2 separate regions of the Homo sapiens genome follow, and region 2 is linked to region 1. Evidence: fine-mapped expression QTL. Tissue or cell type: monocytes after interferon gamma. Region 1 holds a variant in brackets; the other region holds the start of a gene. All regions are shown on one strand. Distances are from middle to middle. Region 1 holds the start of RAB13 (RAB13, member RAS oncogene family). Region 2 holds the start of SLC39A1 (solute carrier family 39 member 1).

What was found.
Region 2: it holds the start of SLC39A1, and the variant in region 1 is fine-mapped to the expression of SLC39A1 in monocytes after interferon gamma (Fairfax 2014, PIP 0.95).

Annotation. Positions count from the first base shown.
Region 1 is chr1:153,979,300-153,990,383 of GRCh38, reverse strand. RAB13 (RAB13, member RAS oncogene family) reads left to right here and starts at 4,045. Exons shown (of 8, transcript NM_002870.5): 1 at 4,045-4,271; 2 at 5,603-5,663; 3 at 6,803-6,863; 4 at 7,088-7,165; 5 at 7,576-7,665; 6 at 7,784-7,849; 7 at 7,940-7,993; 8 at 8,208-8,734. The coding sequence starts at 4,148. The coding sequence ends at 8,285. RefSeq lists a silencer at 3,961-4,130 and enhancers at 3,942-4,443, 4,757-4,986. The variant TG/G (reference allele first, on the strand shown) is at 6,206.
Region 2 is chr1:153,957,506-153,968,589 of GRCh38, reverse strand. It overlaps SLC39A1 (solute carrier family 39 member 1), which reads left to right and starts at 5,053. Exons shown (of 4, transcript NM_001271958.2): 1 at 5,053-5,095; 2 at 5,843-6,061; 3 at 6,240-6,370; 4 at 7,836-9,480. The coding sequence starts at 5,875. The coding sequence ends at 8,492. MIR6737 (microRNA 6737) reads left to right here and starts at 6,170; the gene lies at 6,170-6,239. It overlaps CRTC2 (CREB regulated transcription coactivator 2), which reads left to right and starts at 9,978. Exons shown (of 14, transcript NM_181715.3): 1 at 9,978-10,245. The coding sequence starts at 10,093. It overlaps CREB3L4 (cAMP responsive element binding protein 3 like 4), which reads right to left and starts at 688. Exons shown (of 10, transcript NM_001255978.2): 1 at 426-688; 2 at 1-68. The coding sequence starts at 64. RefSeq lists enhancers at 4,677-4,956, 4,997-5,166, 5,317-5,376, 4,266-5,465, 5,417-5,486 and 9 more and silencers at 430-931, 10,199-10,348.

The DNA.
Region 1 (11,084 bases):
GTTTAATTTAACAGTTTAGGCCGGGCGCAGTGGCTCATGCCTGTAATCCCAGCACTTAGGGAGGCCAAGGCGGGTGGATCACCTGAGGTCAGCAGTTCAAGACCAGCCTGGCCAACATAGTGAAACCCCGTCTCTACTAAAAATACGAAAATTAGCCAGGCGTGGTGGCGTGTGCCTGTAATCCCAGCTACTCTGGAGGCTGAGGCAGGAGAATCGCATGAACCTGGGAGGCGGAAGTACAGTGAGCCGAGATCCACTCCAGCCTGGGTGACAGAACAAGACTCTGTCTTAAATAAATAAATAAACAGGGGAGACATGGTTTGGTCAGTGAAAAGAAATAGGGAAGACTCAAGGAGATAATGAGAGGTGAGAGAATGGACAAAAAGAGATTGAATAGTTTAGCTTGAGAAGGGACAAGCATGGACACGGAAGGTGATGGGGATAAGTGAAAGATGCCTTCTTTTTTTTTATTTTTATTTTTATTTTTTTTTTAGACACAGTTTTGCTCTTGTTGCCCAGGCTGTAGTGTGATGGCGCCATCTCGGCTCACCACAACCTCCGCCTCCCGCGTTCAAGCGATTCTCCTGCCTCAGCCTCCCGAGTAGCTGGGATTACAGGCATGCGGCACCATGCCCGGCTAATTTTGTATTTTTAGTAGAGACGGGGTTTCACCATGTTGGCCAAGCTGGTATTGAACTCCCGACCTCACGTGATCCACCTGCCTCGGTCTCCCAAAGTGCTGAGAATACAGGCGTGAGACACCGCGTCCGGCCTTTAATTTTTTATAGGCAGCCAGAATAGGCTCGAGAGAGACTCCCTTGAATAATTTTTTCTTGCCCGGGCGCCGTGGCTCACGCCTGTAATCCCAGCACTTTGGGAGGCCGAGGCGGGTGGATCACGAGGTTAGGAGATCGAGACCATCCTGGCTAGCACGGTGAAACCCCGCCTCTACTAAAAATACAAAAAATTAGCCGGGCGCGGTGGCGGGCGCCTGTAGTCCCAGCTACTCGGGAGGCTGAGACAGGAGAATGGCGTGAACCCGGGAGGCGGAGCTTGCAGTGAGCGGAGATCGCGCCGCTGCACTGCAGCCTGGGCGACAGAGCGAGACTCCGTCTCAAATAATAATAATAATAATAATAATAATTTTTTCTTTGCCGGTCGCGGTGGCTCAGGCCTGTAATCCCAGCACTTTGGGAGGCTGAGGCGGGCGGATCACGTGACGTCGGGAGTTCGAGACCAGCGTGGCCAACATGGTGAAACCCCGTCTCGACTAAAAAAAAAAAAAAAAAAAAAAAATTTAGCTGGGCGTCGTGGCAGGCGCCTGTAATCCCAGCTACTCGGGAAGCTGAGGCTGGAGAATCGCTTGAACCCAAGAGGCGGAGGTTGCAGTGACCAGAGATTGAGCCATTGCACTTCTGCCTGGGTGACGAGCAAAACTTTGTCTCAAAAAATAAAATAAAAGTAAAAACAAAGGTTGGGCGCAGTGGCTCACGCCTGTAATCCCAGGCCTTTGGGAGGCAGAGGTGGGTGGATCACCTGAGGTCGGGAGTTCGAGAGCAGCCTGACCAACATGGAGAAAGCTCGTCTCTACTAAAAATACAAAATTAGCAGGGGGTAGTGCGGGTGTCTGTAATTTCAGCTACTCGCGAGGCTGAGGCAGGAGAATCGCTTGAACCAGGGAGGCGGAAGCTGCGGTTAGCCCAGATCACACCATTGCACCCCAGCCTACGCAACAAGAGCGAAACTCCACCTCAAAATAAACAATAAAAATTAAAAAAATAAAAATAAAAATAGGCCGGGCGCGGTGGCTTACGCCTGTAAACCCAGCACTTTGGGAGGCCAAGGCGGGCAGATCACGAGGTCAGGAGATCAAAACCATCCTGGCTAACACGGTGAAACCCCGTCTCTCCCTAAAATACAAAAAATTAGCCGGGTGGTGGCGGGCGCCTGTAGTCCCAGCTACTCAGGAGGCTGAGGCGGGAGAATGGCGTGAACCCAGGAGGCGGAGCTTGCAGTGAACCGAGATCGCGCCACTGCACCCCAGCCTAGGTCGACAGAGCAAGACTCCGTCTCAAAAAAAAAAAAAAAATAGGGCCAGGCGTGGTGGCTCACGACTGTAATCCCAGCACTTTGGGAGGCCGAGGCGGGCGGATCAGAAGGTCAAGAGATCGAGACCATCTGGCCAACATGGTGAAACCCCATCTCTACTAAAAATACAAAAATTAGCTGGGCGTGGTGTCGGGCACCTGTAATCCCAGAGGATTACAGGTACTCCAGAGGCTGAGGCACAAGAATCGCTTGAATTCGGGAGGCGGAGGTTGCAGTGAGCCGAGATTGCGCCACTGCACTCCAGCCTGGCGACAGAGCAAGACTCTGTCTCAAAAAAATTAATTAATTAATTAAAAAATAAATAAAAAATTTTTTTGAAACAGGATCTTACTCTATCACCGAGGCTGGAGAGCAGTGGCATCATAATCGTGGCTCACTACAGCCTTGGACTCTTGGGCTCAAGTGTTCTGCCCACTTCTGTCCCCCAAGTAGCTGCGGCTGGGACTACAGGCCACACCACCATGTATGGCTAATTTTTTTTTTTTTTTTTTTTTTTTTTTGTCGAAGCAGTCTCACTATGTTGCCCAAGCTGGTCTTGAACTCCTGGGCTTAAGGGATCCTCTCACGTTGGCCTCCCAAAGTGCTGGGATTACAAGTGTGAGCCACCGCAACAGGTCTTAGATAATATTTTCTTTCTTTCGTGTTTCGTATTTTTTTCCACCCCCAGCACACATATAGCAAGAATAATTTTTTTCTAAAGGCAGAGATAAACTTGTTTCTCTTTTACTCTCTTTCTTTCTTTCTTTTTTTTTTTTTTTTGAGACGGAGTCTGGCTCTGTCGCCCAAGCTGGAGTGCAGTGGCGCAATCTCGGCTCACTGCAAGCTCTGCCTCCCGGGTTCACGCCATTCTCCTGCCTCAGCCTCCCAAGTGGCTAGGACTACAGTCGCCTGCCACCACGCCCGGCTAATTTTGTGTGTGTGTGTGTATTTTTAGTAGAGATGGGGTTTCACCATGTTAGCCAGGATGGTCTCGATCTCCTGACCTCGTGATCCGCCCGCCTCGGCCTCCCAAAGTGCTGGGATTACAGGCGTGAGCCACCGCGCCCGGCAAACTTGTTTCTTTATACCCGTGCTGTTCATATTTCAGCTTCCTGGTTACCAAGGCTACACATTCATGGCCTATTGAGTGAGATTTCAGGAGTACTGCACCTTAAGTGGGCCATATTAAAAGATTCACGTAAAGAATGACATTTTTAGTTCAAATCTCTGTTTTCCTAAGCTATTTGGTCAGAGAAATCACACATGGGTCCCCATAAGAGAGATCGTTCCAACTGAAGCCCCAGGATGTGTCTAGGTAGGCTGTGTGTGTTGGGGTGGTGGGGCCGATTCTGTATAACTAATTTACGTTTTCACCCTGTTCCACCAGGGGGCAGACTGACTCAACAAATAACCTACTTCTGCGCATCCCGCTTTTTTCAAAGTGAATTGGGACCCATAGAACTAAGGGCTTGGACAACTAACAGTAAAATTCTAGGACTGCCTTTTACTCAGCCCCAGAAACCGATGATAACTCATCTTCTAGCTTCGTTGAATAGCATCTCCAAAACTCAGCCCCATTTTTTTTTTTCAATTTCTAGTGCTCTCCCTACCTTCACCCTTATTCCCAAAACTCTTGGTTCTCTTCCCCTAATCCCTCTAAAATTTCTCTTCTAAAATTTCTGGTCGTCGTGGTTAAACCTCTACTTCCCTTCACCCCAGCCTCTCTGGCCTCAGAATGGAAGAGTAAGGTCCTAAGAGGGGAGCTACAATTACCGAAAGGCTGTGGAAAATAGCGAGAGAGACAGGCCGGCCTAAGCTAGGAAGGGAAAACCGAGAGAACAGAGGCCGGGCTGGCAGCCTTGGCCTGCTCAAAAGGGTGGGCGGGCAGGGGGTGGAGCCCGGAGGGGTGCCGCCTCTCCTCTTTCCCGGAGCCTGGGCGGAGAGGGAGGAAAACTTCTTCCTGGCCTGGGCTCCGTGCCGCTCTGTTTGCCAACCGTCCAGTCCCGCCTACCAGTGCCGGGCGCTCCCCACCCCTCCCCCGGCTCCCCCGGTGTCCGCCATGGCCAAAGCCTACGACCACCTCTTCAAGTTGCTGCTGATCGGGGACTCGGGGGTGGGCAAGACTTGTCTGATCATTCGCTTTGCAGAGGACAACTTCAACAACACTTACATCTCCACCATCGGTGAGCCCGCTGGCCATGTCCCAGACCCCGACTCTCCTGTGACCTCCTTCTCCGGCTCCCGGATTACTAGTGACCCCACTTTTCAGTCCCCTTAGAGTAAGGCTCCTAAATTCTAGTCCCTCAACCCCTGGCTCTGACCCTTCCCCCGTGCATGTCTCTGTATAGTAACCAAACCTCTCACCTCTCTGAGGCCTTCAGGTAACTCTTCAACTGCTGCCAGCTCCTCATTTTCTTGGTACCATCGCCTTAGTCTCCCCAAATCCACAAGAACTCTTCTCTATTTTTCTCTGTTCCCCTCTTCCCCTACCCCCACCACCTAGAACTCTCTCGATCCTATCTCCATGTTTCCTGTATCCCTGTCCGCCACATCTTTTTCTCCCGATCCGATGCTAGCCTCTTTCTGTCTTGCTGAGCTTCAAACTCTCCCACTGTGTCCCCACCTCACCATCTACTTCCCAGGTTCCCTGCCCCAGTCTCCCTGCACCTCAGCTGAACAAGGGTTTGGGAAGGGTGGAACAAGGTGGCTGGGTGTGCTGGAGGGTGGCCCAAGGACTGTGATCATGAATATGCAGCCAGCTTGGTGAGGAACGTGGAAATGAGGGGACTTTTGGGGTCTCTGAGTCAGCCTGGTGACTCATCCTCCTCCCAGGGGCCCCCAGCAGGCTTGGGGGAGGTGCCCAAGTTTCTACTAAGAAGAACATTGTCTCCCCTCCTCCCTTCTCTTCTTTCTTCATCTCCTCTGGCTTGGGAAATAGACAGGAAGAGTCTCACGACAATTCTGGTTACAAAGGAAAAGGAAAAATGCCCCTCTTTCCTAATTGTCTCAAAAGTAATCCTGTTTAGCCTCAGACTTTCCTAGTGCCAAGTTTGGCCCACTAGTTAATTCACATAGACTGGCTTCAGCTACTTTTTTCCTTACTCTCTACTAGGAGGGTAGGTGGGATACCAAGAGTAGAGGGCTCTAAGAAAACAGAGAAGAGGAATGTGAAAGTAATATCTGGGGGGAGACAGAGACTGAATTCAGAGAGTTGTCAGCTGGTATAACTGAATGGACCCAAGAGGCAGCCTAAGGATTTTAAGCCTCCATGCAGAATTTTCGTCACCTTTTCCCTCCCAAAATCCATAAAATGTACGTAAAAATAGTATTCTTGCTATACAAATACAGCTTTGGGAAAATTCTCCTAGCTTGGCATTTCCAACAAGATTGTTCCCCAAGTGCCTCCCCTGCAGAATTTCTGGTGCCAGCACTGCTCCGTTCCTGTCCCTTCCATCACACAGTTTTACATGTGTGCATGCATGTCTCAACTTCAGTGCATACCTTCCACCCCTAGGAATTGATTTCAAGATCCGCACTGTGGATATAGAGGGGAAGAAGATCAAACTACAAGTCTGGTAAGTCAGTCCTCTGGGATGCCTCGCCAGACTTCCCCATTTACCTCCTACACGTTTTTCCTTCTATTTTGTTTCATTTCTCTTCCTTTCCCCATTGCTCCTTCTAGAAGTGCTAGAAGGAGCACTTCTGGCATTTCTCCGGATGCACTCAGCTGTCCTTCCATCTCTCTTCCTGCTCTCCCAACTAGTTCCAACTCTTTTGTAACTCTTGCCTCCTCTGGCTGCAGAGCATCCTCTTAATTTGACAACAAACAACTGTTCAGTCATAACATGGAAACAGGCTGTGAGCAGTTAAATGGCAAAGGCAGAATTAAGACTTGACTCTAAGTCTAGTGTTTTCTCCAAAATATGGTGAGCCCAGAGAGCCAAATATAGACCCTGAAGGTGTTTAAGTGGTATGAAGCTTAGTGGAGGCATTATGCTATGACATATAAGAGCAGACTGGTGCGCAAATCTGGTTCTTTTAGTTATCTCCTGCCTGACCTTCATTAATTATTCAGCCTATCCAAATCTGTTTCCTCTTTTTTTTTTTTTTTTTTTTT[TG/G]AGACAGAGTTTTGCTCTTGTCACCCAGGCTGGAGTGCAATGGCACAATCTAGGCTCACTTTAACCTCCGCCTCCTGGGTTCAAGTGATTCTCCGACCTCAGCCTCCCAAGTAGCTGGGATTACAGGCGCCCGCCACTAGGCCGGGCTAATTTTTGTATTTTTAGTAGAGACGAGGTTTCACCATGTTGGCCAGGCTGGTCTTGAACTCCTGACCTCAGGTGATCCACCCGCCTCAGCCTCCCAAAGTGTTGGGATTATAGACGCAAGCCACGGCACCTGGCGTGTTTCCTCATTTTTAAAATAGAGACAATAATACATGTCTTACAAGGAAAGAGTAAGGATTAGATAAAATGATACATACACAGTGCTTGACACATAGCAAACATTCAATGAATAAGCAAAGACATCTTGTTTCTTGGGCCACTACCATCTCTGGAAATCAGCTCAACTGTCTTTAATCCCGTTCCCCTTTACTGTTTCCTTATTCTGTTGCCCCACCATGTTACAAAAGCTAAATTCTTGTGAGAGAGGAAGAATTATTCCGTTGGAGAATTCTTCCCTCTATTCCATCCCATGAAAACTTCTCCTTCTTTAGGGACACGGCTGGCCAAGAGCGGTTCAAGACAATAACTACTGCCTACTACCGTGGAGCCATGGTATGAAGTGTGGGTCTGAACAAAGGATGAAGGATGAGGCTACAGAATATATTATGAATACAAAGGGTCAGGGGTTGGGGCAGGTAAAAATGGGAGGGGTGCAGTGTGGGTTGCAGAGGGCCCAACATGGCCTAGTGTTTAGACCCATGGATGCGGGGTCACTTACAGGGCAGTGGGAAGCCTCAATGGGAACATGGTCCAAGGTGAATTTTGTCATCTCCCAGGGCATTATCCTAGTATACGACATCACGGATGAGAAATCTTTCGAGAATATTCAGAACTGGATGAAAAGCATCAAGGAGGTGAGGACCCTCCAAAAGAGATGGGGAAACTGGTTAGAACCTGGAGAATGAAGGGGTCCATCAGGATAGGCAAGACCTAACTTTTTTTTTTTTGAGATGAAGTTTTGCTCTTGTTGCCCGGGCTGGAGTGCAATGGCAGGATCTCGGCTCACTGCAACCTCTGCCTCCCAGGTTCAAACGATTTTCCTGCCTCAGCCTCCCAAGTAGCTGGGATTACAGGCATGCACCACCATGCTCGGCTAATTTTGCATTTTTAGTAGAGACGGGTTTTCTCCATGTTGGTCAGGCTGATCTTGAACTCCTGCATCAGGTGATCCACCCGCCTTGGCCTCCCAAAGTGCTGGGATTACAGGCGTGAGCCACCGCTCCCAGCCGGCAGGACCTAACTTTTACTTGTCTTTTGCCCCCAGAATGCCTCGGCTGGGGTGGAGCGCCTCTTGCTGGGGAACAAATGTGACATGGAGGCCAAGAGGAAGGTGCAGAAGGAGCAGGCCGATAAGGTGAGGGCCAGGCTGAGCAATGTTCTAGAACTGGGCTGGGAGGGCCAAGATAGGTTGCATTGCAGAGGACTTGGCTGCTGTCCTTAATTCAATTCTCTTCCCACTTCACCCCTTATAGTTGGCTCGAGAGCATGGAATCCGATTTTTCGAAACTAGTGCTAAATCCAGTATGAATGTGGATGAGGTGAGATCCACACCCCCATCCCCGACCAAGAGAGGAAGTATTAGAAGGTAGATTCTCCTCCCTCCAAACTGACTCTGTTCCCCACTTTAGGCTTTTAGTTCCCTGGCCCGGGACATCTTGCTCAAGTCAGGAGGCCGGAGATCAGTAAGTTGGTTTTGCTGGACTAGGTACAACTCTGGGGTGTGTGTGTGTGTATGTATGTGTGTGTGTGTGTGTGTGTGTGTGTGTGTGTTGGTGTTGATAAAAACGGGGAGCAATGCTAAGATTTCTCATGAGGGTGGATTTACTTTAAACAGTTTATACCCTCCTACCCTAACCATCCATTCACACCATGACACCTGTGCCCTTCTCCCTCTAGGGAAACGGCAACAAGCCTCCCAGTACTGACCTGAAAACTTGTGACAAGAAGAACACCAACAAGTGCTCCCTGGGCTGAGGACCCTTTCTTGCCTCCCCACCCCGGAAGCTGAACCTGAGGGAGACAACGGCAGAGGGAGTGAGCAGGGGAGAAATAGCAGAGGGGCTTGGAGGGTCACATAGGTAGATGGTAAAGAGAATGAGGAGAAAAAGGAGAAAAGGGAAAAGCAGAAAGGAAAAAAAGGAAGAGAGAGGAAGGGAGAAGGGAGAGGAATGAATTGAGGAAGTGAAAGAAGGCAAGGAGGTAGGAAGAGAGGGAGGAGGAAAGGAAGGAGAGATGCCTCAGGCTTCAGACCTTACCTGGGTTTTCAGGGCAAACATAAATGTAAATACACTGATTTATTCTGTTACTAGATCAGGTTTTAGGGTCCTGCAAAAGGCTAGCTCGGCACTACACTAGGGAATTTGCTCCTGTTCTGTCACTTGTCATGGTCTTTCTTGGTATTAAAGGCCACCATTTGCACAAATGTTCCTGTTTTGGGTAACTTGGATTATTGTCAGAATTGTTCTCCACTCAAATCCAATTATTGTGTCTTCAAAGTGATTGATTTACCCAAATCAGGCTCGGTTTCTGTGGAACCAGGACTAATCCTACTGCTGTCTCTTCCCTAGCTGTTCTGTTGGTAAGGAAAATAGCAAAGAGCAGGAGGTAGAGTGATCTGAAGGTCTGGATATCCTCTTTCCGCCATGGGGTCCGGATGCCCTTGTGGGCAGAGCCTTGTCCTGAGCACAGGAAATTCCCAGCGAGAAGAACTCTAACAGTCCTAGCCTCAGGGAAATAACTGCACCTAGTGATTTATCCAGTGATTTGTGCAAGCTTCTTTGATTCTGCCAGCAATCCATTTAGTTATTTGATAGGCATTAATATCTGCTTTTATTAGTGAGGAAAATGAGAAGTTCATTTATTCATATATGTATATTGAGCATCTACTAAGTGCCAGGCACAATGGTCAGTTATTTTATTTATTTATTCATTTATTTTTAGGGACAGAGTCTTGCTCTGTCTCCGAGGCTGGAGTGCAATAGTGCGATCTCAGCTCACTGCAACCTCTGCCTCCTGCCTCAGCCTCTCAAGTAGCTGGGATTACAGGCGTGAGCCACCATGCCTGGCCAATAGTCAGTTAATATAGCCCTTTGGTGGTACTTACAAGCAGAGGGACAAGGACTTTTTTTCTTTTTTAAGACCGAGTGTGGCTCTGTCGCCCAGACTGGAGTGCAGTGGCACGATCCCAGCTCACTGCAACCTCTGCCTCCCGGGTTCAAGCGATTCTCCTGCCTCAGCCTCCCGAGTAGCTGGGATTACAGGCACGTGCCACCACACCTGGCTAACTTTTGTGTTTTTAGTGGAGACAGGGTTTTGTCATGTTGGCCAGGCTGGTCTTGAACGCCTGGGCTCGAGTGATCAGTCTGCCTCAGTCTCCCAAAGTGCTGGGGTTACAGGCGTGAGCCACTGCGCCCAGCCTGGGACAAGCAAACTTTAACAAAAACAGCTCTTTGGCTGGGCGTGGTGGATCACAACAGGAGTTCAAGACCAGCCTGGCCAGCATAGTGAAACCCCGTCTCTACTAAAAATACAAAAAAAAAAAAAAATTAGACAGGAGTGGTGGAGGGCGCCTGTAGTCCCAGCTACTTGGGAGGCTGAGGCAGGAGACTCACTTGAACCTGGGAGGCAGAGGTTGCAGTGAGTTGAGATCACACCACTGCACTCCAGCCTGGGTGACACAGCCAGACTCTGTCTCAAAAAAACAAAAACGAAAACAAAAACATCTCTTTGCTGAATAACAAAGATGGCAAAACTACTGGAAATGCAAAAGAAAATTCAGGCTTGGGCCGAGCACGTTGTTTCATGCCTGTAGTCCCAGCACTTTGGGAGGCCGAGGTGGGTGGATCACTTCAGGTTGGGAGTTTGAGACCAGCCTGGCCAACATGGCGAAACCCCATCTCTACTAAAAATACAAAAAAAATTAGCTGGGCATGGTGGTGGGTGCCTGTAATACCAGCTACTTGGGAGGCTGAGGGAGGAGAATCGCTTGAACCTAGGAGGCAGAGGTTACTGTGAGCAGAGTTCGCACCATTACACTCCAGCCTGGAGACAGAGCGAAACTCCATCTCAAAAAAAAAAAAAAAATTCAGGCTTGATGCACAGCATCCTTAAGTATATATATATTATATTATATTATATATTACAATGTATAATTATATATATTATATATTAAATATATAGGAAATATATAATATATATAACATGTATATGTTTATAAACATATAACATATTATATATAATATATAATTATATATTATACATATATATTAAATATATATTATAATTATATATTTAATATATAATATATTATGTTTAATATATAATTATATATAATTATATTATGTTTAATATATAATATATAATACATATTTTAATACATAATATATATATATCCCCCTTTCACCATACATAATATTTTTTACACAGCAAAATGTAATAACTTGATAAATGTAAGTATCCAAGCATTGATGAGGTAATGATAAACCTTATTTGTGGCTTATGCTTAAGTTCTTTTTTTTTTCTTTTGAGATGAATTCTTGCTCTTGTTGCCCAGGCTGGAGTACAATGGTGTGATCTCGGCTCACCGCAACCTCTACCTCCCGGGTTCAAGTGATTCTCCTGCCTCAGCCTCACGAGTACCTGGGATTACAGGCATATGGCACCATGCCCAGCTAATTCTGTATTTTTAGTGGAGACGGGGTTTCTCCATGTTGGTCAGGCTGGTCTTGAACTCCCGACCTCAGGTGATCCGCCCACCTCGGCCTCCCAAATTGC
Region 2 (11,084 bases), 22 kb after region 1:
TCGAGAAGATATCCTCTGGGGGCTCCAGCCACGCGTCCAGCAGGTCAGGGATTCCGAGATCCATGCTTCTGCAGGAAGGCGTGTGGGACGGAGGGTTGCAGAAACGGAATGATGGCTGCTTACTACCCCCTACAGTTTCTGGGCTCCTCTGCTCCCTTTTCCATTATCCCCGCCCCCCCACTCCTTCCTCACTAGCAAGCCCCCTCACCTGTCCCCTCGATATTTCACCTTCAGCCCTATCCCTCAGGTTTAGACAAAGAGGCCCCCCCCAAGCATTACCTGTTCTGAAGAGCCCAGCCCTGTCAAGCCAGCATAGCCCGTTGACCTCCCCAAACACTACACCTTTTCTTTCTTCCAGGATCTCGTATCCTGGACCTGCCAGCCAAACCCCGCCCCCAGCCTTACACTACAAAAGTGGATGCCACCTTGCCAGGAGCCACGGTAGGGCCGCTGTATCTGGGAGTAGGGGACTAAGAGTCTGAGGGTCCACAAACGGAATTTAAGAAGTAGGTAGCCGCGCCCTTTCTGCTGCAGTTTTCTCTTAGCTATAGTAAATCTTCCTGAGGGTTTGGTGTCTCCTAGCTGAAGAACAGAAAAGGCTGTGACTGGAGCACAGGACTCCTGAATGCCTGTTCTGTAGCCCTCGCTTTTGCAAGAGGGAGATCATGGCAGGGTTGTAAACAAAGGCGGAAAGAGTCAAGAGACCTGCGAATTTACTAGGGCATCCCCTCGCCCACCGCGTGGCGCTCTTCCCAAAGCTGAGTCCTGATTGGAAGCTGAAGACTTAGGTTTCGGAGGGGCAGGACATCGAGCCAATGGCACACTACCCTCTCAAGGCCGCCTCTTCCGTAACTGGTCGGAGACAGTTTGGCTGTTCAGGAGAGTCAGGCCAATGGGGCCGCAGTTCTTTCTTTTTTTTTTCTTTATTCTTATTTTTGGAGACAGGGTCTCGCTCTGTTGCCCAGGCTGGAGTGCGGTGGTGCGATCACGGTTCCATGCAGCCCCCGACCTCCCGGGCTCAGGTGATTCTCCCGCCTCAGCACCGCGAGCAGCTAGGACCACAGGCGCGAGCCACTGCGTCCGGCCGGCGGGACTTATTTGTCAGGCGGGGATTGGGTTCCGCCAGCCTAAAGGGAGGGGTAAGCGCCAGAATATGAATCGCCGGGAAGCTGGGAGAAAGCTCCGGGAAACCCTGAGCAGCCAGGTTTGTCTTCGCGCGCCACGTGACTCGGAAGCTCCGGTTTCACCCAGGCGGGGAGTCAACAGCCCGCTGACCCCAGTGGAGCGGTGATCCTCGCTCGGCAGGCGGCAGGAGCGCGATGGCGGGTTTCCCCGTCCGCAAGCCGAGCAGTGTGGCGTTAATGGAGAACAGCAGCTGTGCGCACACGCTCGCTGCACGCTGCTCATTCACGGAGGGACACGGGGCAGGAAAACTGCAACAAGTTAAAAAGCCTTTTGCGTTTGTTGTCTTATTGTTTGCATACAGTTACCGGGAACATTATGTCCCACACTTGTATAATTTACAAAACGTTTTCATAAAAATTGTTCTCTTCCTTAATCCATAACAGTTCTGAGGCACACACGGCGGGTAATATTTTGCAAATTTTACCTATGAGGAGGCAGATCCATGACTAGAAAGTAGTAATACCAAAACTCAGGGTTGATTGATTATTTTTATTTTTTTGCCTTGGTCTAATGTCTGATGGTCCAGGAATTCACTTCAAGTAAAACAATGGAGGTAAACTGATACAGGTATGGTTTTCAGTAGTATTTCAGAAAAGGGTAGCTGGGTGAGTAAAACAGTAGTTTGGAGTGTGAATCCCAGAACTCAAACTGCTACTAATTATCCTTATGAAGATTTGAACGGGCTAAGGGTAAAAACGGGAACAGGGTCTAGTCAGGCATTTCCATGTTACTCATATAATTCTTACAGCAGATGGAGCTGACAAGTTTGTTTGTTTGTTTTTCTTTTGCTCTGTGGCCCAGGCTGGAGTGCAGAGGCTCGATCTCGGCTCACTGCAAGCTCCGCCTCCCGGGTTCACGCCATTCTCCTGCCTCAGCCTCCCTAGTAGCTGGGACTACAGGCGCCCAGCTAATTTTTTTGTATTTTTAGTAGAGACAGGGTTTCACCGTGTTAGCCAGGGTGGTCTCGATCTGACCTCGTGATCCGTCCACCTCGGCCTCCCAATGTGCTGGGATTACAGGCGTGAGCCACCACGCCCGTCCGAGCTGACAAGTTTAAGTAACTTTCTCAAGGTTACCCTGTAAGTAGCTGAACCAAGATTTGGATGCTTCAGCCCATGTTCTTCACACTATCAACCCACCTTGTGGGGCTTTCTCAGATTTCTTATCTGTCTTTCCCGCTCATATCTCTCCATCCTGCTCAAGTAGTGAAGAGACAAAGCAGCCTTCCTAGATTGATGCAGAGCTCCAAGGAAAGCAAAGCTGTTCTTGTTGAGATCATTCTGAGAGCGAGAAAGGTGGTTAAATACATTTCAAAGGGCTTCCTGCGGGCTGTATGTGCAGAGATGATTTGAGTGGGGAATGTAGTTAGCTTCCGTTGATGTTAGAACTGGAAGGACCCTCTGCAGTCATCTGCTTGTTTAACTTCCTCCTTGCCCCTGATTTATCAAACTCTGGTGAGGAAAACTGACTTGCCTAAAATCATACATCAAGGTAAGGTAAAATTGAGGAGATCTATTGGGCCGGGTGTGGTGGCTCACACCTGCAGTCCCAGCACTTTGGGAGGCTGAAGCGGGTGGATCACCTGAGGTCAGGAGTTCAAGACCAGCCTGGTCAACATGGTGAAATCCCGTCTCTACTAAAAATACAAAAATTAGCCGGGCGTGGTGGCGGGCGCCTGTAATCCCAGCTACTCGGGAGGCCGAGGCGGGAGAATTGCTTGAAACCTGGGAGGCAGAAGTTGTAGTGAGCCAAGAGCATGCCACTGCATTCCAGCCTGGGCAACACAGCAAGACTCTGTCAAGAAAGAAAGGAGGAAAGAAGAAAGGAAGGAAGGAAGGAAAAAGAAAAGAAATAAAGTTGCCAAGAGATTTTAAATGTTCTCATCACAAATAAATATGTGAAGTAATGCATATGTTAATTAGCTTGATTTACCCATTCTGCAATGTACATATATTTCTTTTCTTTTTTCTTTTTTTTTGAGACGGAGTCTCGCTGTGTCGTCCAGGCTGGAGTGCAGAGGTGTGATCTTGGCTCACTGCAACCTCCGCCTCCCCGGTTCAAGCGATTCTCCTGCCTCAGCCTCCTGAGTAGCTGGGATCATAGGCATGCGCCACCACGCCTGGCTAATTTTTGTATTTTTAGTAGAGACAGGGTTTCACCATGTTGAGCAGGCTGGTCTCCAACTCCTGACCTCGTCATCTGCCCGCCTCGGCTTCCCAAAGTGCTGGGATTACAGGCGTGAGCCACCGCGCCCGGCCCAATGTACATATATTTCAAAACATCATGTTGTACACCATAAATATATACAATTATTAATCATATATGACATATGTATGTGTATAAATAAACAAATATATATATTTGACAACTATAAAGGTAGAACTTGGACCAGAATCCAGGTTTCCTGACCCCCCCAGTCATAATTCCTTGTTAATGTTACCAATTACGAATAATTTTTTTTTTTGAGACGAAGTTTCGCTGTTGTTGCCCAGGCTGGAGCGCAATGGCGCGATCTCGGCTCACTGCAATTTCCGGCTCCCGGGTTCAAGCGATTCTCCTGCCTCGGCCTCCCGAGTAGCTGGGATTACAGGCCCCCGCCACCACGCCCGGCTAATTTTTGTATATTTAGTAGAGACGGGGTTTCACCATGTTGACCAGGCTGGTCTTGAACTTCTGTCCTCAGGTGATTCATCCTCGGCCTTCCAAAGTGCTTGGATTACAGGCGTGAACCACCGCGCCCGGCCCCTTAAGAAGTCTTCACATTCCTCTTTTACTTAAGGAATTACTGGGCTTCGTTTCTGGAGCCTTGTGAGAAGCATTACACTGTCCCCCCTTTTTTTTTTCTTTTTTAAAATTAATTTTCCTGTAGGAAGCAAGATCCCATCTGTCCCTTCTTTAGGCAATGAAGCTTTTTTCACCTTTGCATAAAAGAACAGCTGAGCCCCCTTTTTAAATTTTCTTTTGTCTTACCGTCCCTTGAGGCTAGAAGAGGATTCTCAAGGCACAGAGTTGTGGGCCACAAGAATCCAGGTTGAGGAAACGGTGAAAGTCCTGAGCTGAAACAACTACCTTGGGGCATTCAAGGAACAGCAAACAGCAAACCGACCGGCGAGGGTGGCGGGAGCTGGGCTGGAAATCAGGTGGGAGAACCGGCCAGACGCCCGCAGGCGCGGTACGCAGATATCCTGGAATGCGCTGGGGGCTCTTCCCTGGGCGCGGCTTCAGCACCCCGCATTCCGGTCCCACCACGTCCCCACCCACCTGGAGAAGGCGGAGGCTGCACTGAGTGCCATAAGTAGTCGAGAAGGGATGATTTTCAAGACATACCCTCTCTTTGCTTTCCCCCCTTTCCAATTCTGCCTTGTCTTTTTCCTTGTTGTGGGTGCTGGTGAGGGAAAGCAGTCAAGGAAGTTGGTCCCAAGAGGGGAATGCTTTCCCTTGGGCGCCAAGAGGCACTGACGAGGTGTCAGAGCCTTCTGAGGGACAGATGAGACTTTGGCCCAAGGCCAGGAAGATGTTTTCAGATGTGGGCCGGAAGACTTGACAATGCGGGGTCTCCCTCTTTTAAAAATATCCATATAATCAAAGCCTTTGTTGACTGGCCCGCTCCGGCCCCTCAGTCCTCCACAGATGCGCCCCAGGGCCCCAGCCCCGAGGTCCTTTTCCTAATATCCGCTCTTGCTCTCGCTCACTCTCCTCAGGTCGCCTGCTCCGCCCGCTCCCGCTCCCGATCTCTGATTGCTCCTAACTGACGTCACTCCCGGTCTGTCCCCGCCCACTCGGTGCTGCCATTGGCAGTCGGTCGTGGGTACGCGGCTCCTGTGGGGGAGGGGGGAGCTATGGGAGGGGGCGGGAATTCCCGACTCTAGGCCGGAAGCGCGCGGAGACCATGTAGTGAGACCCTCGCGAGGTGAGTGCGGGCTGTCTGGCAGCGGGGTCCATGTCGGCTGCCCAGGCCTCCCCGGGCCCGGGAACAGGAGTCCCAGCTCACGCATTCTTCATCTGCTTCCCGCGACGCTTGGCGGCCTCGCACCCCGCCTCCTGGAGCCCGGACTTTCAGGCACCGCCCTCAGTGTCGCCTCAGTCCGTCCCGGGACCGCAGACTCTTAGGGCCCCTCTCTTTGGCCATCTGCCTCTAGGTCCCATCCTGGGGCCTGAAGCGCTTGTTCTCTGCGCTGGGAAAAGGGGAACGATGGAGCGATCCAGCACCCAAACTTACCCTGTCCAGGTGGCCCACGAAGCTACCCAAGACATCTCTGCACAGCCCTAGCCTTTTTGGCTTCACCCACTCCGTTCGGGAGTTGGGGACCCGGCCTCTACATTCCTTAGGGGAACTCCAGCTCCAGGTCCTATTTGGAGGCGGCTCCTAGTTTCCTAGTTTTCTGGGGGCACCAGGTGAAAGGGTGATGAGATATCCATACAGCCTTTCTCATGCCTCGGTTTCCCCCGTGCAGTCTCCCTGAATAAGTCACTTGGGAAAGAAAGTGTGAGAAGAGAGGAATGTTCCTGGTACAGGAGTAGATGAGTCACCCTGGGTAGGGGAAGGTCACAAAGTGGCTGGGGCCAGGGAGCTGCACTCTGCTGACCAAGCTTCCCCATTCCTTGCCCCATCTTCCTTTGCATGATTTTTCCCAACCACTCTGGTCTGTCTTCCTAGGTCTGAGAGTCACTGGAGCTACCAGAAGCATCATGGGGCCCTGGGGAGAGCCAGAGCTCCTGGTGTGGCGCCCCGAGGCGGTAGCTTCAGAGCCTCCAGTGCCTGTGGGGCTGGAGGTGAAGTTGGGGGCCCTGGTGCTGCTGCTGGTGCTCACCCTCCTCTGCAGCCTGGTGCCCATCTGTGTGCTGCGCCGGCCAGGAGCTAACCATGAAGGCTCAGGTAAGCCTCTCCTTTTCCCCACACTGCTATGAATGCTTGGCTTAGGGAGGGCTCTGGGGCTGGCGGGGAGTGACCAAAGGAGGAGGGAAAGGCAAGGGTAGCCATTGTTTGGGTTGGGGTGGTCGGCCCTGGAGGGGGTTTGTTTGCTTATTCCCCTCTGTGCTTCACCCCTACCCAGCTTCCCGCCAGAAAGCCCTGAGCCTAGTAAGCTGTTTCGCGGGGGGCGTCTTTTTGGCCACTTGTCTCCTGGACCTGCTGCCTGACTACCTGGCTGCCATAGATGAGGCCCTGGCAGCCTTGCACGTGACGGTGAGCACTGGCCTGGGCATGTGACTTGCGGGAGGGGAATCACACACCTCTGGGAGTGTTGGTTTGTGGAGATTGATTCATGTGCCACTCCATGACTGTGTGGAAGACTTTTGGCATGTGGTATGAATTGTGATTTTTGGTTATGGGGCATAATTCTTTCTATGTGTTCCCTCCCCCTTCCCCATTCCCTGTGTGACCCCTACATTCCCGTTGAGACAGTAAGACACTTTTTCTCAGGTGTGTGACTTGCTCTATGGGTTCTCAGTTCTAGCTACCAGCAAGTGCTCCAAGAATCATCTTCACTCTCTCACCACTTTCCTAAAGGGCTGGAGATAGAGGTCTCTGTAGGCCTGAGAAGGATAGGAAGCGATTCCCTGGGTCTTGGTGTTGCTAACCTTTTTAGGCTTTGGCCCAAGGAAGTGGGCTGTGAGGAATGATCAAGTCCACGGCATAGGACTTGGTTTATTATAGGAAAAACTGAGGCCGTTGGATAGTGGGGCAGGAAAGTCATCCTGGGCTCTTTCCTTTTTTCCTCTAAAACTGAGGAAGTAACACTGGATGTATCCCTTTGTGTGTCTGTGACTGAGTGACCTGTGTTTCCGTGTGACTGCGTATAAGCCTGAATGTCCTGTGATATGTGGCTCTATGTATGAGTATTTGGGGAGATGGGCAATGTGTGACCTTTTCATGTATGTCTACATCAGTGACTCTCAACTAGGAGTGTGGCTTTGCCCCTCAGGAAACATTTGGTAATGTCTGGGGATATTTTTAGTTGTCACAATGGGGAGGGGGATGGAGGGAACATTGTGCCTGCTATTGGCATCTGGTAAGTAGAGATCAGAAATGCTGTTAAACAATCTACAGTGCACAAGACAGCTCCCATGACAAAGAATTATCTGGCCCAAAATGTTTTTGTTTGTTTGTTTTTGTTTTGTTTTGTTTTTGAGAAAGAGTCTTGCTCTGTTGCCCAGGCTGGAGTGCAGTGGCACAATCTCGACTCACTGCAATCTCTGGCTCCTGGGTTCAAGTGATTCTCCTGGCTCAGACTCCTGAGTAGCTGGGATTACAGGCATCCACCACCACACCCTGCCAATTTTTGTATTTTTAGTAGAGACAGGGTTTCACCATGTTGGCCAGGCTGGTCTCAAACTCCTGACCTCAAGTGATCTTCCCACTTTGGTCTTCCAAAGTGCTGGGATTATAGGCATGAGCCACTGCCCCTGGCCCCAAAATGTTAATAGTTCCAAAGCTGAGAAACTTTGGTCTACACGTAACACTGTGAGTGACACCATAATCTGTGTGTACGTATCATTCTGTGTCAGTGTTACCAATTCACTCTATCTTTGTGTGACTGAGAGTAGCCCTGTGTCTGTGTCAGACCCTAGGTCTGTGTAACTGGGCTTTCACCAGATTTTGCATCTCACTCTTCCTTCCCTGAACATTTTGCTGCTGCTTCTGCCCACAGCTCCAGTTCCCACTGCAAGAGTTCATCCTGGCCATGGGCTTCTTCCTGGTCCTGGTGATGGAGCAGATCACACTGGCTTACAAGGAGCAGTCAGGGCCGTCACCTCTGGAGGAAACAAGGGCTCTGCTGGGAACAGTGAATGGTGGGCCGCAGCATTGGCATGATGGGCCAGGGGTCCCACAGGCGAGTGGAGCCCCAGCAACCCCCTCAGCCTTGCGTGCCTGTGTACTGGTGTTCTCCCTGGCCCTCCACTCCGTGTTCGAGGGGCTGGCGGTAGGGCTGCAGCGAGACCGGGCTCGGGCCATGGAGCTGTGCCTGGCTTTGCTGCTCCACAAGGGCATCCTGGCTGTCAGCCTGTCCCTGCGGCTGTTGCAGAGCCACCTTAGGGCACAGGTGGTGGCTGGCTGTGGGATCCTCTTCTCATGCATGACACCTCTAGGCATCGGGCTGGGTGCAGCTCTGGCAGAGTCGGCAGGACCTCTGCACCAGCTGGCCCAGTCTGTGCTAGAGGGCATGGCAGCTGGCACCTTTCTCTATATCACCTTTCTGGAAATCCTGCCCCAGGAGCTGGCCAGTTCTGAGCAAAGGATCCTCAAGGTCATTCTGCTCCTAGCAGGCTTTGCCCTGCTCACTGGCCTGCTCTTCATCCAAATCTAGGGGGCTTCAAGAGAGGGGCAGGGGAGATTGATGATCAGGTGCCCCTGTTCTCCCTTCCCTCCCCCAGTTGTGGGGAATAGGAAGGAAAGGGGAAGGGAAATACTGAGGACCAAAAAGTTCTCTGGGAGCTAAAGATAGAGCCTTTGGGGCTATCTGACTAATGAGAGGGAAGTGGGCAGACAAGAGGCTGGCCCCAGTCCCAAGGAACAAGAGATGGTCAAGTCGCTAGAGACATATCAGGGGACATTAGGATTGGGGAAGACACTTGACTGCTAGAATCAGAGGTTGGACACTATACATAAGGACAGGCTCACATGGGAGGCTGGAGGTGGGTACCCAGCTGCTGTGGAACGGGTATGGACAGGTCATAAACCTAGAGTCAGTGTCCTGTTGGTCCTAGCCCATTTCAGCACCCTGCCACTTGGAGTGGACCCCTCCTACTCTTCTTAGCGCCTACCCTCATACCTATCTCCCTCCTCCCATCTCCTAGGGGACTGGCGCCAAATGGTCTCTCCCTGCCAATTTTGGTATCTTCTCTGGCCTCTCCAGTCCTGCTTACTCCTCTATTTTTAAAGTGCCAAACAAATCCCCTTCCTCTTTCTCAAAGCACAGTAATGTGGCACTGAGCCCTACCCAGCACCTCAGTGAAGGGGGCCTGCTTGCTCTTTATTTTGGTCCCGGATCCTGGGGTGGGGCAGAAATATTTTCTGGGCTGGGGTAGGAGGAAGGTTGTTGCAGCCATCTACTGCTGCTGTACCCTAGGAATATGGGGACATGGACATGGTGTCCCATGCCCAGATGATAAACACTGAGCTGCCAAAACATTTTTTTAAATACACCCGAGGAGCCCAAGGGGGAAGGGCAATGCCTACCCCCAGCGTTATTTTTGGGGAGGGAGGGCTGTGCATAGGGACATATTCTTTAGAATCTATTTTATTAACTGACCTGTTTTGGGACCTGTTACCCAAATAAAAGATGTTTCTAGACATCTGTACAGTATCTGATTCGTTTGTTTTGGGAAAGGGGTGGGCATGTGGCCAGCCTGAGAGGGCCTGAGTCCCAGATGTTTACAGCTGTTTTAAGATTCTTGGTCTCACTGTTTTCACTCAGGACCCGATAGTCCCCTTCCCTGAAGATGACCTAATTTTTCCTCCTTTGTGTCTTGGTACTTCTTTCCCGGTCTCCACCCCTCGGCTTCCCTTCTCTTCCCTCCCCTCCCTCTTCCTTTCTTCTCTCTTCAATCCCTCTCTCCTTTCCGTTCGTAGTCTCAGGGCTAATTTAGAACTACTCTTCCCAGCTTGCACCTCTCAGGGAGTAGCCGAGAGGGTGGAGCCAAGTCCCCAGTTTCCGGAGTCAGCAGGGCTGCTGGGAAGTGGAGTCCGTTTCCTCCTAGTGCTGCGTGACTGGGGATGTGAAGGAGTCTCGTAAACAAACTACAATTCCCGGCGGCCCCCGCGCGCAACAGGTCAGGGCTAGGCTGGGGCCGGGTTCGCGGTGCTCGCTGAGGCGGCGGTGGCTACGGCTGGAGGAGCCGGGCCGAGGCCGCGGCGGAGGCCGCGGCTGGTACTGGGAGGGTGGCAGGGAGGGACGGGGAAGGAAGATGGCGACGTCGGGGGCGAACGGGCCTGGTTCGGCCACGGCCTCGGCTTCCAATCCGCGCAAATTTAGTGAGAAGATTGCGCTGCAGAAGCAGCGTCAGGCCGAGGAGACGGCGGCCTTCGAGGAGGTGATGATGGACATCGGCTCCACCCGGGTGAGGGGCCGCGCCGGGGAGCCGGAGCAGAGCTGAGCAGTTACGGAGCGGAGACCGGAGAGGCGGGGCGGGGGCGGGCGCCGCAGCGAAGGAGGCGGAACAGAGCAGGGGACGCGGGCGCCGCCGTTTGGGAGGCGCAGGTTGAGGGCCGAGGGGCAGGAAGAAGGATTTTGCCGGGGGAGACCGAAACACCGGAGAGGTTCGGGGTGTAGAGGCGACTGGGGGCCGAGTACGTGAGGTGGGAGTGGGCGGAGAGGGGAGATGAAGTCCGGCGGAGGTAGGAGGTGAGTGGTCCTTGTGCATCCCTGACGGAGTCCCCTCGAGGACGCTACTGAAGCATGCCTGGTATTGGGGTATGGCCTGGGAGGAGGGCTGCTTGTCTGTAACCTGGCTCCTCTGAGTTTGTGATCTCCTCCAAACTGGTCCCTCTGCCTTCTGCGCTTTGGTGCCCCCGGGAAAGGGCCCCTTGAGTGGTTTGAACGAGCGGTGCTGTGTATAGTGGGGCAGGAAGTCCCCTCCTGCGTCCCGTCCTTTTGCTTCCTTTTTCAAATACTTCTTGTGGTTTCCTGACGTGAATGAAGGTGAGGTCCATTGCTTGGTGTTTTGTCCTGGCCTCCTTGGAGGAGAGGTAGGGTTTTGAATCCGACAACTGGGTAACCGTCCGACCATAAGTTGTGTGGAACTCTATGGTTTGCTGAGCTTTCTAGGGAGTTGGCTGCTTTGTGGGTTAGTGTGTAGGGTGCCTTGGAGGGTCTTCTATGTGTTGAGAATATTCATTCCTAGGAGTTCTTGAAAGAACTTTCAGGCCTCTGCCAGGCTGCCTCTGAAGCCCCCCTGGC